Linked DNA regions of Homo sapiens: region 2 is linked to region 1. A link means that fine-mapping ties the variant in region 1 to the expression of a gene that starts in the linked region. Tissue or cell type: whole blood. Region 1 holds a variant in brackets; the other region holds the start of a gene. All regions are shown on one strand. Distances are from middle to middle. Region 1 overlaps CDS2 (CDP-diacylglycerol synthase 2). Region 2 holds the start of CDS2 (CDP-diacylglycerol synthase 2).

Evidence for each region. PIP is the estimated chance that this variant, and not a neighbour inherited with it, causes the effect.
Region 2: CDS2 starts here. The variant in region 1 is fine-mapped to the expression of CDS2 in whole blood (TOPMed, PIP above 0.99). The same link has a PIP of 0.9 or more in neutrophils.

What each region holds. Positions count from the first base shown.
Region 1 is chr20:5,157,381-5,165,853 of GRCh38, forward strand. All of the region lies in intron 1 of CDS2 (CDP-diacylglycerol synthase 2), which reads left to right. Among named protein-coding and RNA genes, the nearest start is that of CDS2, 35 kb to the left of the region's middle. The variant G/T (reference allele first, on the strand shown) is at 3,737.
Region 2 is chr20:5,122,662-5,131,134 of GRCh38, forward strand. It overlaps CDS2 (CDP-diacylglycerol synthase 2), which reads left to right and starts at 4,347. Exons shown (of 13, transcript NM_003818.4): 1 at 4,347-4,488. The coding sequence starts at 4,432. It also overlaps a transcript of PCNA not described here. RefSeq lists a silencer at 3,836-4,755 and enhancers at 4,018-4,519, 5,096-5,185.

The DNA of each region.
Region 1 (8,473 bases):
ACATCTGAAGAGTGGAAAAAAATCTGAGAGAAAGGATCATGATGGTAGAGGCAGAGAAAGGAGGAGTTGATTGGCATAGGAGAGCACTGGAAGATGCGGGACCTGGGGCCTGGGCAGGGAAAGAGAGGCCATGTCTCAGTCTGTTTGGGCTACTATAATGAAACACCATGAGCTCAGTGGCTTATAAACAACAGAAGTTTATTTCTCATTGTTTTGGGGTCTGGGAAGTCCAAGATTATGGCGCCAGCAGATTGAGTGTCTGGTAAGGAGCTGCTTTCTGGTTCATCCAGGGCTTCTCACTGAGTCCTTATGTGGTGGAAGAAGGATTTCTCTGGGACCTCTTTTATAAGGGTGCTAATCCCATTAATGAGGGGTTCAGCCTCATGACCTAATCACCTTCCAGTAGCTCCATCTTCTAATACCATTGAGATGGGGGTTAGGATTTCAGCGTATGAATTTTGGGGAGACATAAATATGCAGACCACCGTAGGCCAAGACTTCAGATTGGGGTAGGTGGCAGGCACTTATTTCACTTCTTTCTGAAGGAGCTTGTTACTGACAGATTATCATTTTAGGTCCTTTAGTTCAAGCTTGTCTGACCCACGACCCAACACAAATTCGTAAACTTTCTTAAAACATTATGAGTTTTTTGTTTTTTGTTTGTTTGCTTGTTTTAGCTTATCAGCTATCGTTAGTGTTAGTGTATTTTATATGTGGCCCAAGACAGTTATTCTTCTTCCAGTGTGGGCCAGGGAAGCCAAAAGATTGGCTCCTGCTTTAGGTCTTTTTTTTTTTTTTTTTTTTTAAGACAGAGTTTTGCTCTTGGTTGCCCAGGCTGGAGTGCAATGGCACAGTCTCGGCTCACTGCAACTTCTGCCTCTCGAGATCAAGTGATTCTCTTGCCTCAGCCTCTTGAGTAGCTGGGATTACAGGCACCTGCCACCACGCCCAGCTAATTTTTTTGTATTTTTAGTACAGACGGGGTTTCACCATGTTGTCCAGGTTGATTTTGAGCACGTGACCTCAAGTGATCTACCTGCCTTGGCCTCCCAAAGTGCTGGGATTACATGTAGGTGTAAGCCACTGGGCCTGGCCTAGGTCATCATTTTTTAAACAACCCTGTAAAATCTCACCAAGATTTTTCACTTGTTTCCAGATTATAATGGATTCTGTTTGACTCTGGTCTCCAGGTTGTCAAATGACATATTTTCAGGATATAAGACTATAAGTAGACTTTTCTATTAACAGTAAAGCTTGTGAATCTTGGTTTGATATGTACAAACAGAGCCACCACTATGTACCCCAGTTTCTGGTTGGAGTGACAGAATGAGAACACAGCCAATTTCTGAGCAGCTAGCGGTTTGGGGACACAGTAGGAATTTAATACTGGGTGATCGTTGTATCTTACAAGGTGCATCCTCAAGTAGTAATAACTCATTTGTCAGAGATATATGGTGGTGTTTTGCAGTGATTTGCAAACTGTGTTCTCTGCTGATACGTTAGGGGTTCTCCAAACAAAATTTAAATCTGACAGTGAAGATGAATTGAGACTCCTTCACGCTGTTATCTCAGCACAGGTGAGGGTGAGGCACTTGATGTTAGGAAAACCTTGCTTTAACCCATGTGTCTTTGCGATGGAACAGAAGGATAAGCGAGCCGCTTTGAAAATCAGATTGAATTTTTTTTTTGTAGTAAAGTTTTATCAAACATTTAAGACCTTTACAAACTTGACTAAATTTTGTTATTCATTTCAAATTAATATCAGAAATCTAATGTGTTACATTTTCTTTTTTTTAATATATATTTTAAATTATACTTTAAGTTCTAGGGTACATGTGCACAACGTGCAGGTTTGTTACATATGTATACATGTGCCATGTTGGTGTGCTGCACCCATTAACTCGTCATTTACATTAGGTATTTCTCCTAATGCTTTCCCTCCCCCTCCCCCCACCCCACAACAGGCCCCAGTGTGTGACATAAATTTTATGTCAGATAATGTAGAACAGAGAAGCATCAAAAAATGACTCAATGGTCTTGATAAATTCATTTGAAGATGAAATTATGTTAAAATTTTATAGTTCAGTAATTTAAAAGTATATTATAGTTTTTTTCTTTTTGTTTTGGATGATTTGCATGTAAACAAGTGTAAGGAATCTTTGTAAAGCATCAGAAGAAAATTTTAGGTGTTTTGATGTTCATTAACAGACTATTAGCAAGATGTCAAAGGAATAATAATGCCTGTGCAGATGGTAACTGCTTTGTTCTGTTCCTCTTTTCCCCCAAAACAGATTTGTAAAAATTGTATTTGTTACATTATTCACAAACCTTTTCTACAAAATATATACCAAACTGGGTTCTTTTGAAAGATTTTTCTAGTAATTTTTAGGTCATTTCCATATATATTATGTGCAGTTTAAAAAGCAAACCAACCCTAGTTTGTTAAATAATTACCCTGTTTTTACTTAAAAAAAATGGGGTTGTGCACCTGTGTAAAGTTTGTACATCTTAGCAGTATAAATTACTGACACATTTTTAAAAATGAAGTAAAAACTCAGAATCCTTGTGATTCAGTGCCCTTATGTTTTTAAAAAAGAGGAAAAAATAATGCAAGATTCAGAATATTGGAGTGGTTGATATGCCTTCTTCATTTTAGTTTTTGACTGGCTGCTCATATGCCGATGATGATGAAGCTGAGCTGTTTGTGCCACTGCCATTTGATGCTGCGAGAATCACAACTGTTTCATCTGTTGCTGCTGCTATTAAAAGGCAGAGTAGTAACTGGCCACTGAATTAAATTTAAAAGAAAGGCAGGGGAGAGCCGGCATCTCTGCTGAGGATGGCTTTGCTTAGGTCTTTTCTTAGCCCTGCAACTACTTAACACTTCATATGCTTGCTGAAGGGGTAGGTCTGCCCTTGACTGGTTGAACCTTGTTCAGAATCCTGTTCACCTGGCTGTTGAGGACTAGAAGTTGTAGGTTGCTGAGGTGGTGTTGGGGGTTCTAGCCCCCTCCTCACAGTAGTAGGGGAACCAGAGTTTTGGGGAGCCTTAGCAGTTTTCTTCCTGGTTGCAGGTTGGGGTGGATACAGCTGTTAGACTGTCTGCATTGTCCAGTATAGTAGCCACTAGCCACATGTGGCCAATTAAACCTTTTCTTACTGTGGCTAAATATTATATATATCATAAAATTGATAATTTTAACCATTTTCAAGTGTATGGTTCTATGGCATTGAGTACGTTAACATTGTTTTGCAACTGTCACCAGAACAAACATTCCAGAATATTTTCATCTTCCCCAAATGAAACTCTGTACCCATTAAACAACTCTCCCCTCTCACTCCCCCAGCCCCTGACAACCACCATTCTATTTTCTGTCTCTACGAATTTGACTACTCTAGGTACCTCATGTAAGTGGAATCATATATTTGTCCTTTTGTGTGTGGCTTATTTCACTTAGCACAATGTCCTCAAGGTTCATCCATGTGGTAGCATGTGTGAGAATTTCCTTCCTTTTTAAGGCTGAATAATATGCCACTGTATATGTATACTACATTTTGTTCATTCCTTTGTTGATAGATACTTGGATTGCTTCTACTTTTTTGTTTATTGTGAATAAGGCTGCTATGAACATGGGTGTACAAATATCTCTTTGAGTCCCTGCCCTCAGTTCTTTTGGGTATATACCCAGAAGTGGAATTGCTGAGTCATGTGGTAATTCTATATTTGATTTTTTGA[G/T]GAACTGCCAGGCTGTTTACTATAGCAGCTGCATTATTTTACATTCTGACCAACAGTGCACAAGGGTTTCAGTTTTTTCACATCTTCTCCAGTACTTGTTATTTTGGTTTTTCTTTTTTCTTTTTTGAAAATAGCCACTCTAGTGGATGTGAAGTGTGTGGCAGTTTAAATTTAATTAAAAATAAATACATAAATTCACTTCCTTAGTCTCGCTAGCCACATTTTAATTGTTCAATAAGCCACACACAGCTGTGGCTCTCATATTGGACAGTATAGAGAGAACATTTCCATTATTGCAGAAAGTTCTATACTGACAAAACCTGGAGGTAGCAGTGGACCTGAAAGGGATTGATCCAAGCCCAGCAGAGTCCCAAGGATTCAATCAATTGATAACTGACACATACATTGAGAGGCAATCCATTGATAACTGACACATACTTTGTGTAAGTAGTATAATCCAGTATAGACATAGTTTTATATTCTGCCTTTTTCATGTTGCTGCACGGTGTTTATAGTAGTCTTGTTAATAGCTGCACAGAAAGTTGATTTACCGTAATTTACCTAATAATTTTTCCTTGTTAGGGACATAAAACCAGTTTCTCCTTTTCAGTACTGCAGTAGAGTATGCTCATTTCCCAGTTGTCTCCAGGCCTAGCCCTTCTGGTTTCTTCATCTGTTCATTTTATCGTCTTGCTCTTTTTTGTCTCCTTACTGTTTTAACCACTCTATTGGACGTACTTGGCCTCTAAGTAAAGTTTGACTAACGCTAACTAGAACCAGACCATGCCTGTGTTAATATAGCCTAAAATGCCATTAGCTATTTTTGCTGTTTGAACTGCTTGTACCATCTTGGGTCAAGTGCCTACTCCAAAACAGTCAAGGTGCACATTGCCTTAGGCTGGGGTAAATGCCTGTTCGTGAACCTATCACTGTGGCAGAGGGGCAGAATTAAAAATAAGTAGACTGTACAAGCTGCTGTATACCATGAAATAGTTTATGGATTTTTAGGAGGGAACCAACTGCAGTGTCCAGTACCTGGGGGAAGATAGGGAGATAAGAATTAAGGGTCGAACATCCCAAAATCAAAAATTTGAAATTTTCAAAATCTGAAACTTTTTGAGTGCCAATGTGATGCTCAAAGGAAATGCTCATTGGAGCATTTTGAATTTAGGATTTTCTGATTAGGGATGCTCAGCCAGTAAGTATAATGCAAATATTCCAAATTCTGAAAAGAACTCTGAAATGCAAAACACTTCCGGTCTCAAGCATTTTGGTTAAGGGGTATTCAATCGCTACCTCTCAGGTTTCTGGCTTATGCAGGGTATATAGACTCGCATGCTGTCAACTGATTGACTAGGCAAGACTTCAGGATCAGTAGTTTTACGGACAATGTCAAAAGTGTTCTGTTTAGATGTGTTACTTTTGAGATGCCTGTAAGAACTTTCTCGTGGAGATGTCAGTAAGTGGTTGGAAATATGAATCTGAAGCTTGGGGGAGAAGTTGGGGTTGGAGATACAAATGTTGGGGTCATTGGCATGGAATTGGTAATTAAAGCCAAGGGGCTGGATGATGATACCTAGGGAGAGAGTGTGGTAGGTCCAGAACTGAGCCCAGGGCCCATTCAACATTTTGAAGTCAGGTAGACTTCAAAGTCACAGGAGACTGAGAAAGAGCAGCCAGTCAGGTAGAGTGAGAACCTGATAAGTATGGTATGGAGGTAGCTGAGAGGAGAATGTTTCAAGGAGGAAATGGTCAACTAGATCTGACATTGCCAAGATATATGATAAGATGAAGGCAGGGGAATCTGTCTGATTTGGCAGCATGGAGGTTGTTTTATTTACTTATGTTTGAAGATGCACTTTAGTCTCCAGAGCCTAGGGAGATCATACTGAGGCCACATTGACTTTTCTTTGCTGGGGTAATGGATATTTGAAAGTAATTTGATGGCCAGGTACTGTGGCTCATGCTTATTCTCCCAGCACTTTGGGAGGCCAAAGCGTGAGGATCACTTGAGGCCAGAAGTTCGAGACCAGCCTGGGCAATGTAGAGAGGCTCTTTCCTTTTAATTACTGGTTTTCAAAAAAAGATTTGGTGTTTCAGCACCCTTCAGAGGTGGCCAAAGTAGTTTTTTTTGTTTCGTTTTTATTTTTATTTATTTTTTTGAGACAGAGTTTTGCTCTTGTTGCCCAGGCTGAAGTGCAATGGCTCCATCTCAGCTCACCATAACCTCCACCTCCCGGATTCAATCGATTCTCCTGCCTCAGCCTCCTGAGTATCTGGGAGTACAGGCATGGGCCACCACTCCCTGCTAATTTTGTGTTTTTAGTAGAGACAGGGTTTCTCCCTGTTGGTCAGGCTGGTCTCGAACTCCCAACCTCAGGTGATCCACCCGCCTCGGCCTCCCAAAGTGCTAGGATTATAGGCGTGAGCCACTGCGCCTGGCCAGTAGTTTCTTACAGTTATCATTATGAACTCATAAATTTTCATATACTTGTGTTTAAATCACTTTTTGTTTATTATTTTAATGCTCAAATTGTCCTATCGTTGGCCATTAGGAATGTTTCTTCAAAGACTTTCTCATTTTCAATTTAATTTTTTCCCCAGGTATCCTTAGTGATTTATCAAAAAGAGAAAGAAACTATTTAGCATTGTGGCTTTCATAATTTCTTTCTTTCTTTTTTTTTTTTTTTTTGAAGCAGAGTCTAGCTCTGTCGCCCAGGCTGGAAAGCAGTGGTGCAAACTCGGCTCACTGCAGCCTCTACCTCCCAGGTTCAAGCAGTTCTCTTGCCTCAGCCTCCCAAGTAGCTGGGATTACAGGTGCCCACCACCACGCCTGGATAATTTTTGTGTTTTTAGTAGAGACGGAGTTTCACCATGTCGGCCAGGCTGGTCTTGAACTCCTGACCTCAGGTGATTGCCCACCTTGGCCTCCTGAAGTGCTGGGATTAGAGGCACGAGCCACCGCACCCACCCCATAATTTCTTCTATAACTAATATGACACATTTGGGATTGAGAACACTGTTAATTCCATGTTCTTCAAGGGAGAAACATACTAGTTTCTCCCTTGAATAGTTACAGTCTATTTGATTGGTACTTGATTCCATGATGGTTGGTTATAAACCAGGAATACTACAAAAGTGACAATATAATGTTCCAATATGGTAAACAGCCCCAGGGTGCTTGTCTGCCCACAGGAGTAGGGGAGGTTGGGGCATGAGACACTGGGGACATTTGCTCTCATGTCTACTTATTTTGTCTAGGAATCTTTGTAGAAAACACTATTGTGAGGTGAGTGACAGTGAAGCAGGTACCAGATGGCGATTTATGATTTAGGGGCTCGTCGCATGTGGAGCCCAGCAGCTGTCCTGGTTCTACTTCCTGACAGAGGTCTGGGGAGCACACTTGAGCCCAGTTTTGAGATTGCGAATATATTTTTCTTCTCCATCTTACTAGATCTTTTGGCAGTATTAGACATACTCCCTCCTTGGGAGAGCTTTATCTTAATAAACTGAAAAAAAAAAAAAATTCCTTCCTTCCCCAGTAGCGCTGAAAACTCATTTTCCCTTAAATACTAAATAGAGATGCCCGACTAAGGAACTGATAATAGAAGGACCCGTTGGACTCCAGTGGGGCTTCTGATTTTTGGTGTCTTTCCCCTAACCCTGGAAGACAATAGGAAAACAAGTGATGTCATCGGAACAGAGCCGTTGGCAGAGCCTCCTGGGGACCTGAGTGGTTTTCTTGTCTCTGATAGTCTCTGTTCTGAATTAAGTAATGGCTTGTGATGGAGGTTGGTACTTCCTGCAGCTATTTCATATTTATAGTCATATGCTTGCTGTTAGTAAACAGATGCATCTACTCCAGAAGGAGGCTTCAATGGGCAAGGTGGGAGAGAGTGTTGGGAGAAAGGATTCCTGGTCATTCCTTGTCACAAAAATTATGGGTTTAATGTATGAGACTGGCAGTCATGCAGAGGTTGGGACTCAGTACAACTGTACGTATTTGAGTTAGAAAGCCTTGCATTCCTAGAAGCTGGATTTCAGACAGGATTTCCTCATCCTTTCTGAGACATACAGATTCTGTACTTTTTTTGGAAACCCCCGTATTGCTTAGGATACATTTGGCCACAAATGTCTAAGAAGAAGGGGAGATAAACAGTGGGACAGCTGGCTGCAGCCCTAAAATGCCTCCTCTAGTGCTACTGAGTGCAAAAATGAATTGTCAGCCTACGCGACATGTAGCCCAGCTACACCTGCCACTTCAGCAAACCCTGGATTCTCTCAGCATCATTGGCTCTGGCTGCCTCTGCAGATGTGGTTCTAGGTGCCAGGCCAGGTGCTGGGGGTACAGTGGTGAGGAAGTCAACATGGCTCCCCCACAGAGATGATGGTCTCGAGGCGGAGACTATGCGGTGTGGGAAGCCGTCTTTTTTTGTTTTTTTGTTTTTTTGAGACAGGGTCTTGCTCTGTCATCTAGGCTGGAATGCAGTGGCATGATCAGGTCTCACTGCAGCCTCAATCTCCTAGGCTTAGGCGATCCTCCCACTTTGGCCTCCCAAAGTTTTGGGATTACAGGCATGAACCACGGTGGGGAGCACTCCTAAGGAAGGACAGGGGCCGCTGGGACACACAGGCAGTTGGGGAAGATTTGGAGAGAAAGGGAACTCTTAAAAGATCAAGGAAAATTTGCTGGAAGAGAAGTGGGTTTTAGTAGAGGGTGGTTTGCAGACTGTTTAA
Region 2 (8,473 bases), 35 kb before region 1:
ATCTCAGTTCCTTTGCAAAATGTGGAATGTGTTCCTTCCTCCAGTGAGGAACATTTGCTTCACTAAAAACAAATGCATATGCTCCACTACTCTGTTTCAGTTCTGTCTGCTTACATAATAACATTTTGGTTTAATGCCAAATTACATGTAATAGATTTGAAGACATTTTAAATGACAAACTCTATCCATGGGGGATCCACCATGTACATCAATCTGTTTATTTCTGCTCTATTACAGAAGTGATGTCCTCCTAAAAGTGTCAAATGATAAAGAGGTGTACAGTTACGTAAATTTTATGTTAAACTGAAATGAGGACATAAACATGCCTATGACTGTGGTCAGAGAAGGCCTCTCTGAGGAGGTAGCATCTTATCAGAGAAGACAGCTGCTTGGAGAGTTGGAAAAAAGCATTCTAGGCTGAGAGAATAGCATGATTATAAAGGTCAGCATACTTGGAATATATTCAGACAAGTTTGATGTAGAACTCAGACTGATGTGTCTGAAGCAAGAGTGGTGCAAGGTGAGGTTGCAGAGAGGCTGGGGTGAGCTCTTGCAGGACTTTGTAGGCTCTCTAAAAGTGCAAGGGAATGTGGTCAACAGCAGATCTTTGATGTGATCCAATTTACATTTTAAGTGGCTACTCTAACATCTAGTAAAGGTACTATTGGATCAGTGGGAGAAAGAATGAAGTAAATTTTGATCAGATAATTGGTTAAACTATTAGAAAAGAATAAAAGCTGTAGACTTTTCTGGATGGGCGCAGTGGCTCATGCCTGTAATCCCAGAACTTTGGGAGGCTGAGGTAGGTGGATCATCTGAGGTCAGGAGTTCGAGACCAGCCAGGCCAACATGGTGAAACCCCGTCTCTACTAAAAATACAAAAATTAGCTGGGCGTGGTGGTGCACACCTGTAATTCCAGATACTAGGGAGGCTGACGCAGGAGAATTGCTTGAACCCGGGAGGCAGAGGTTGCAGTGAACCAAGATTGCGCCACTGTACTCCAGCCTGGGTGACAGAGCAAACCTCCATCTCAAAAAAAAAAAAAAAGACTTTTCCTAATAATTATTCACTAAATTCTAGATAAAGAATTCAAATTCAAATCTTGACCCAATAAGAAATGGAAAAATATTTTGGTAAATATTTATGAGATCTTCCTATGGGCTTCCAAACATAAGAAAAAAACCCATAAAACATAATGAATAACCATACAAGTTTTAAGACTTCAGTATGCCTCAAAGGATTATATTGGTTAGTATAGTTTAGGTTTCAGTGACAGAGAACTCAACTTGAATGGATTAAGAGAAATAGAAAATTTATTCATCTAAACAAAAAGCCAGAGGTATCTGGCCTCCACTGTCCAGTCCTAGTCTTCATAAACGTGAAGTTTGTTAGCCACATTAATAAGCAAAGAAATGTAAATTCAATGGAGACAGAATTTTAACCTACCAAATTAATAAAAATCATGTTAACACCTGGTGTGTTAGGAAGGATTCAAGGAAGTAGGCACTTAAATACATTGCAAGTGGGAGTATACATTGGTATAATTTTTCTGGTGGAAACTTAGAAATGTGTATCAAAAGCCTTAGAATTTTACTTATTCTTTGACACAGAAATTCGATCTCTAGGGTTTTTTCCTACAGAAGAAATCAGGGGCATTTACCAAGATCAAGCATGCTTAAGAATGTTTCTTGAGCCAGGTGCAGTGGCTGATGCCTGTAATCCCAGCACTTTGGGAGGCCCAGGTGGGCGGATCACCTGAGGTCAAGAATTCAAAACCAGCCTGACCTAAAACCCCTGTCTCTACTAAAAATACAAAAATTAGCCAGCTGTGGTGGCGGGCGCCTGTAGTCCCAGCTACTCGGGAGGCTGAGACAGGAGAATTGCTTGAACCTGGGAGGCGGAGGTTGCAGTGAGCCGAGATCACACCATTGCACTCCAGCCTGAGCAACAAGAGGGAAACTGTCTAAAAAAAAAAAACAAAAAACAAACAAAAAGAAAACAAAAAACGAAAAGAGAGAGAGAGAAGGGCTCTAAAGCTGGCCTAAAGCCCTATTAGCATCACTTCCACCAGACCCCTGTTCGTCACACAGTACTGACTTCAGGAATATACTTGATCTGAGTTCCATTAACCTGAGAGGGCTGAGTGTAATGGATGAGAAGTTTGTTCAGACCACATGTTATCCATCCTAGTAATCATGCTGTGCATTCTATAATTCTGACTTATGTGCATTGATTCTCCAAGCCTCCTTTTATTAGGCTGGATTTGAAAAGGAGCAGCTGAGTTTCTAGAAGGACTGACATGACACTCACTTAGATATGACCTTTCATACCTACGTGCCCCTGAAGGTGAAGTTCTAGACACTAACATCTTCACCTGTCTTAGAAGATCATCTTGCTCGAGTGCTGTGGCTCATGCCTGTAATCCCAGAACTTTAGGAGGCCTATGTGGGAGGATTGCTCGAGCCCAGGAGTTTAAGACCAGCCTAAGCAATAAAGTGAGACTTCATCGCTACACAAAAATTTAAAAGTTAGCTGGGTGTGGTGCTGCACACCTGTAGTCCAAGCTACTCGGGCATATACTCATATAGAAATCAGGAATATATAATGCTGTTTTCAGAATTCTCACTACCTGCCCCAAAACTCACAGCTCAGGTCAAAATTACCAATAGGAAATTTTAGCCAGGCATGGTAGCTCATGCCTGTAATCCCAGCACTTTGGGAGACCTAGGCGGGAGGATCTCTTGAACCCAGGAGTTCAAGACCAGTCTGGGCAACATAGTGAGACCCTGTCTCTAAAAAAAGGAGAAATAAATTAATTAAAATTTAAAAATTGAAAAGAAGAAAAATGTAAAATTATATTTTTTTAAAAAACGAAATTGCAATTCTTTTGTGTGCAAGTGTCTCATTGTGAGATTACAGTATGCTTAAGTTGGGGACGCAGTGTTATATGTGTTTTACATCACTTACAGGGCAGTGAATAGAAAGAACAGGAAACACCAAAGGCAATGCTGGAGCAACACAAGTATTAATAAATGCAGGCAGGCAGTATAGTATGGTGGTTAGAGTGTGGGCTGGTAACAAACCTGTTTGTGTTCTAATTCTTACTAGGCACTTTCTAGCTGGGAGACCTTGGCTAAGGTCCTTTTAAAAGTTTTAAATCCATCCAACAAGTACTTACAATGGATGTGTCAAAGACATAGAGGATGCACAGTAAACAAAGTAGACAGCACTTCTGTCCCAAAAAAGGTCTTTCCATAGTCCAGAAGACAAATTTGAAAAACTGAGGAAGGGCCAGGCTCGGTGGCTCACGCCTGTAATCCCAGCACTTTGGAAGGCGGAGGCGGACGGATCACCTGAGGTCAGGAGTTCGAGACCAGCCTGACCAATATGGTGAAACCCCGTCTCTACTAAAAATACAAAAGTTAGCCGGGCGTGGTGGCGCGCACCTTGGAATTGTTTGCGCCCGGGAGGCAGAGGTTGCAGTGAGTCGAGATCATGCCACTGCACTCCAGCCTGGGCGACAGAGCGAGACTCCGTCACAAAACAAACAAACAAACGAACAAACAAACAAACCACTGAGGAAGATCTTAACTGTAAAATTCAAATCATACCCACTTCCAAGCCATGTGTGGATTAAACGAGATAAGCCAACTAAAGCGATTACTCAGCTCAGTGCCTAGTATACAATTAGTGCTTAACAAGTACTAGCGACCGCTTGGCAAAGCAAAGCAGACTGAAGCGTGGGTTTCATTTCTCATCATGTGATAAGTGATAAAATGCTCTTAACCAGGTCGGCTCACCTGGCCTTTCCATTCGACCTAAATAACGTCTACTTACTTGCGTAAGGGAAGAGCTCTGGCCCAGGTCAGCAAGCATTTGTCAGGCTAGAGCCTCCGGGTGGCGCTTCTCGCCCTCAGTAACCGGTTACCTCCAGAACCAGGGCGCCAGCTCCGGCCATCCGCGGTTAAGCGGGAGCTCCCATTGGCTAATCGCACACTGAAACGCACGCCTTTTCCCGCCCCTGACGCTGCCGTCCAATGCGCGCCTCTCGACTCTGCTCCGCCCCGCCCCGCCCCCGTCGCCCTGCCTCCCTGGCGTATTTGCGCCATTGGTGGATATTCCGGACCGTGATGGTGGCGCTGCGCGTGCGCACTCGCTCCGAGCCCTGCTCCCGGGAGAGGGAGCTCTCGGGTCGGGGCTAGGGAAGGCTGACCCCGCTCGGCCCGGGTGAAAGGGCGGTGACGGCACTGGGTGGGGCCGAGCTCCAGGGCTGGCTGCTGGGCTGCTAAGGGAACTGTGAGCCGCTCAGAGCCGCGCGCCTCCCGGGCGGGGCGGGGCCGGCCGTGGGAGTCCGCGCGTGCCCGCGCCGAGCTGCCTGCTCCGGCGGCTTCGCTGCTAGCTCGCGGCGACGTCGGGCCGATTTTCCCAGGATGACAGAGCTGAGGCAGAGGGTGGCCCATGAGCCGGTTGCGCCACCCGAGGACAAGGTAGCGGCAGCGTCGGGGTGGGCGCGGCCGGGACAGCGGCGCATCCGGGAGGCCTGCGGGGGACGCGCGCAGAGGGGTCGTCTTGTTCTCTGACCCTTTGTCGCAGCCGACGGCGGCCCCGGGCCCGGGTAGCGCGAAGGGCCCTCGGGTGCCCGGCCTTCGCGGCGCGCGCGTCAGGGGTCGGCGGGTCGGGGTCCCGGCTCAGGGTCTGACTGAAGTGGCTCCCCCGGGGCGCAGGAAGGAGCTTCTCGGGAGTGGCGCACGGCCTCCTGCCTCGCTGGGCTGGCTGCGGGGACTCCCCTCTCCCCCAACTCCGTGAGGCCTTCCTGGAGGTGAAGATATGCAGAGCCTTCTTAGGGAGGCGGCTCCTCTGAGCGCAACTTAGGCTCTCCGTTCCCTTTTACAATGTTATTATTTTGGGGGGTGGGGGAATCAGGACAAGGCCATAGCATTTGCCTCCTGGGAGATGTAAATCCCTTCTTGGGCATGAAATCATCGGCTTTGAGCAAAGGGGTGTTACCCAGTGAGCCAGTCCGTCATCAGCAGGTGTTGGAGGGCGTCCTCCCGGTTGATGGGTTGTTTCCTGCACCGTGTGGGCTCTGGTGGGTAGGGGAGGAGAGTAGGAAGGAGGCCATCTTGGCGGGGACAGTGGCGGGGGTGACGGGTGGGGGAGTGGACTCCTTTGGGTGAAGTGAAAGATCTGTGTAGGGGAGTTAAGGAAGGTAGGGATTGGTTTTATTACTGTGGAGGTTGAATGGCAGTATAGGACTTTGTAGCAGTAGTTGTGCTTTCCGAGATAGCAGTGATCAGGAGCCCTGTGTTTGGGAAACTGATCAGACAGTGATGTGTAGAAGGGACTGAGGGAGCCTGGACCAGACTGAGGGAGCCTGGTTCACTCGGGATTGCCCATGAGTGACCTGTAGATGTTTTCTTTGGCCCACATATTGCCTTAAAAATCAGAAAGTTTCTCCTAACAATCTAAATTTCTTGCCTGTCTTAGATAATTGGAGGGTCCACCATCACTTTGTCACCTGCTCAATGGTTGGCTGGAGCTGAGGATCATCGGTTCCCACCAATCCCTGTTGCCTTACACCAGGCTCACGGCTTCCCCTAATGCAGCCTGTAACTTTTTGATGACTGGACGCAACGGACATTAGGGAGACACCCAGAAGGAAGAAAGCACAAGATTTGGTGACAGGATGTCAACAGAGCAGTTACACTAGGAGGAATGTTTTTGGTGAAAGATAATGAGATCATGGGTTTTTTTTAAACAACTTTCGTGTTATTGCAGTTGACAGTGGACTATCCAAAGAGAACTGTTCCTACCGATTTTTAGAACATATATTTTGGCCAGGCACAGTGCTGCTCGCCTGTAATCCTAGCTTCTAGGGAGGCTGAGGCAGGAGGATCGCTTGAGCCCAGGAGTTTGAGACCCTGTCTCAAAAAACAAAAACAAAAACATATTTTGGAGAACATTTAGGGCTGGGGCTGAGGATTTAGCAGTCGCTTGCAGAGACAAGATACTTTGAAGTCTCTAATTTTTCATTTGGCTATCCTGGTTCAGCCTGAAAGAATTCTGACTTACCTTGTACTACTAGTTGGTGAGTATGCAGATGTTTGGAGGCTCTGTAGCTCTGTTTAAGGGTGAGATCATGCTTGATGTTAGTGGGACTTTGTGGACCTAGAAGGTGTGAGGAGAGAGAGAAGAAAGAAGGCATGATAGCTGGTGGGCCATGTTTTTGAAAAGCTAACTATGTACAATAATTAGAATGTCAAAAAACAACCTTGGGATTATGAGATGCAACATAAAGATTCTACCCTCCTTCCCGGACTCGTTGGATCCATCCCCCAGAGATAAAGTGCGAGTTGAACCGTCTTACTTTCACATCCTGTACTTTAGACTGGGAGGACCTGAGGAGCTGTCCAGCTAGAGGTGCACTTATATCACTTATACAGTGACAGAATGCCTGGGGTCATGAGGTCCACTTGTGGCGTGTTGTTTCCTAAAAGACAGCTGCTATGCACTCTGTTAAAAGCCTGATGTTCATTACCGAGAACAAGACAATCAGTTCCTCACCCCATTATTCAGAACTTCTCAATTGTCACTGAATTGTCATGTATGGGATTTTATTATTATTATTTTTTTAGACGGAGTCTCTCTCTGTCGCCCAGGCTGGAGTGCAGTGGCACGATCTCAGCTCACTGCAACCTCTGCCTCCCAGGTTCAAGCTAGTCTCCTGCCTCAGCCTCCTGAGTAGCTGGGACTATAGGCATCCGCCACCACGCTCGGCTAATTTTTTTTTTTTTTTTTGAGAGGGAGTTTCGCTCTTTTGCCCAGGCTGGAGTGCAATGGCATGATGTTGGCTCATCGCAACCTCTACCTCCCAGGTTCAAGCAATTCTCCTGCCTCAGCCGCCCGAGTAGCTGGGACTGCAGGCGTGTGCTACCATGCCCGGCTAATGTTGTATTTTTAGTAGAGGCACGGCTTCTCAATGTTGGTCAGGCTGGCCTCAAACTCCCAACCTTAGGTGATCCTCCCGCCTCAGCTTCCCAAAGTGCTGGGATTATAGGCATGAGCCACTGTACCTGGCGTTTTTTTTTTTGTATTTTTAGTAGAGATGGGGTTTCACTGTATTGGCCAGGCTGGTCTTGAACTCCTGACTTCGTGATCTGCCCGCCTCGGTCTCCCAAAGTGCTGAGACTACAGACGTGAGCCACCACACCTGGCCATGTTTGGGATTTTTAATAAGGGAACATTTTAAAAACTGTGAAATCTATTATTTGTCTTTGAATGTATATAGTAAACTTTTGTTTGTTGGTTTGTTTTTTTGTTTTTTTTTGAGACAGAGTTTCGCTCTTGTTGCCCAGGCTGGAGTGCAATGGCACAATCTCGGCTCACTGCAACCTCCACCTCCCGTGTTCAAGCAATTCTCCTGCCTTAGCTTCCCCAGTACCTGGGATTACAGGTGCCTGCCATCACGACTGGCTAATTTTTTTGTGTTTTTAGTAGAGACGAGGTTTCACCATGTTGGCCAGGTTGGTCTCGAACTCCTGACCTCAGGTGATCTACCCACTTTGGCCTCCCAAAGTGCTGGGATTACAGGTGTGAGCCACCGTGCCCGGCCCATAGTAAACTTTTAAAAAATCCTGATTTATTCTGTTTCATAGTTTGGGAAACACCTACTTCCATGACTTTGGCTTTGCCAATATTCTTGTGTTAGAACCCAAGGAAATTAGAAATAATAAATTTTAAGGAAATGCATTATGAAACAAGAACTTTTTAATTTCATAGTAGAAGAATCCAGTGAACAATTTTCAAGTCAGTGCTTTAAAAGCTCTGGAATAGGCTGGGCGCGGTGGCTCACGCCTGTAATCCCAGCACTTTGGGAGGCTGAGGTGGGCAGATCACCTGAGGTCAGGAGTTCGAGACCAGCCTGACCAACGGGGTTTTAGTAGAAACCCCGTCTCTACTAAAAATACAAAATTAGCCGGGCGTGGTGGTGCATGCCTGTAATCCCAGCTACTCAGGAGGCTGAGGCAGGAGAATCGCTTGAACTTGGGAGGCAGAGGTTCCGGTGAGCCGAGATTGCGCCGTTGCACTCCATCCAGCCTGGGCAACAAGAGCCAAACAACGTCTTAAAAGAAAAGAAAAGCTCTGGAGGCTGGGCGTGGTAGCTCACGCCTGTAATCCCAGCACTTTGGGAGGACGAGGCGGGTGGATCACGAGGTTAGGAGATCGAGACCATCCTGGCTAACATGGTGAAACCCCATCTCTACTAAAAATACAAAAAATTAGCCGGGCGTGGTGGTGGGCGCCTGTAGTCCCAGCTACTCGGAAGGCTGAGAGGCAGGAGAATGGCGTGAACCTGGGAGGCGGAGCTTGCAGTGAGCCGAGATGGCGCCACTGCACGCCAGCCTGGGCGACAGAGCAAGACTCTGTCTTAAAAAAAAAAAAAAAAAAAGCTCTGGAGTAAACTTGAAAGAT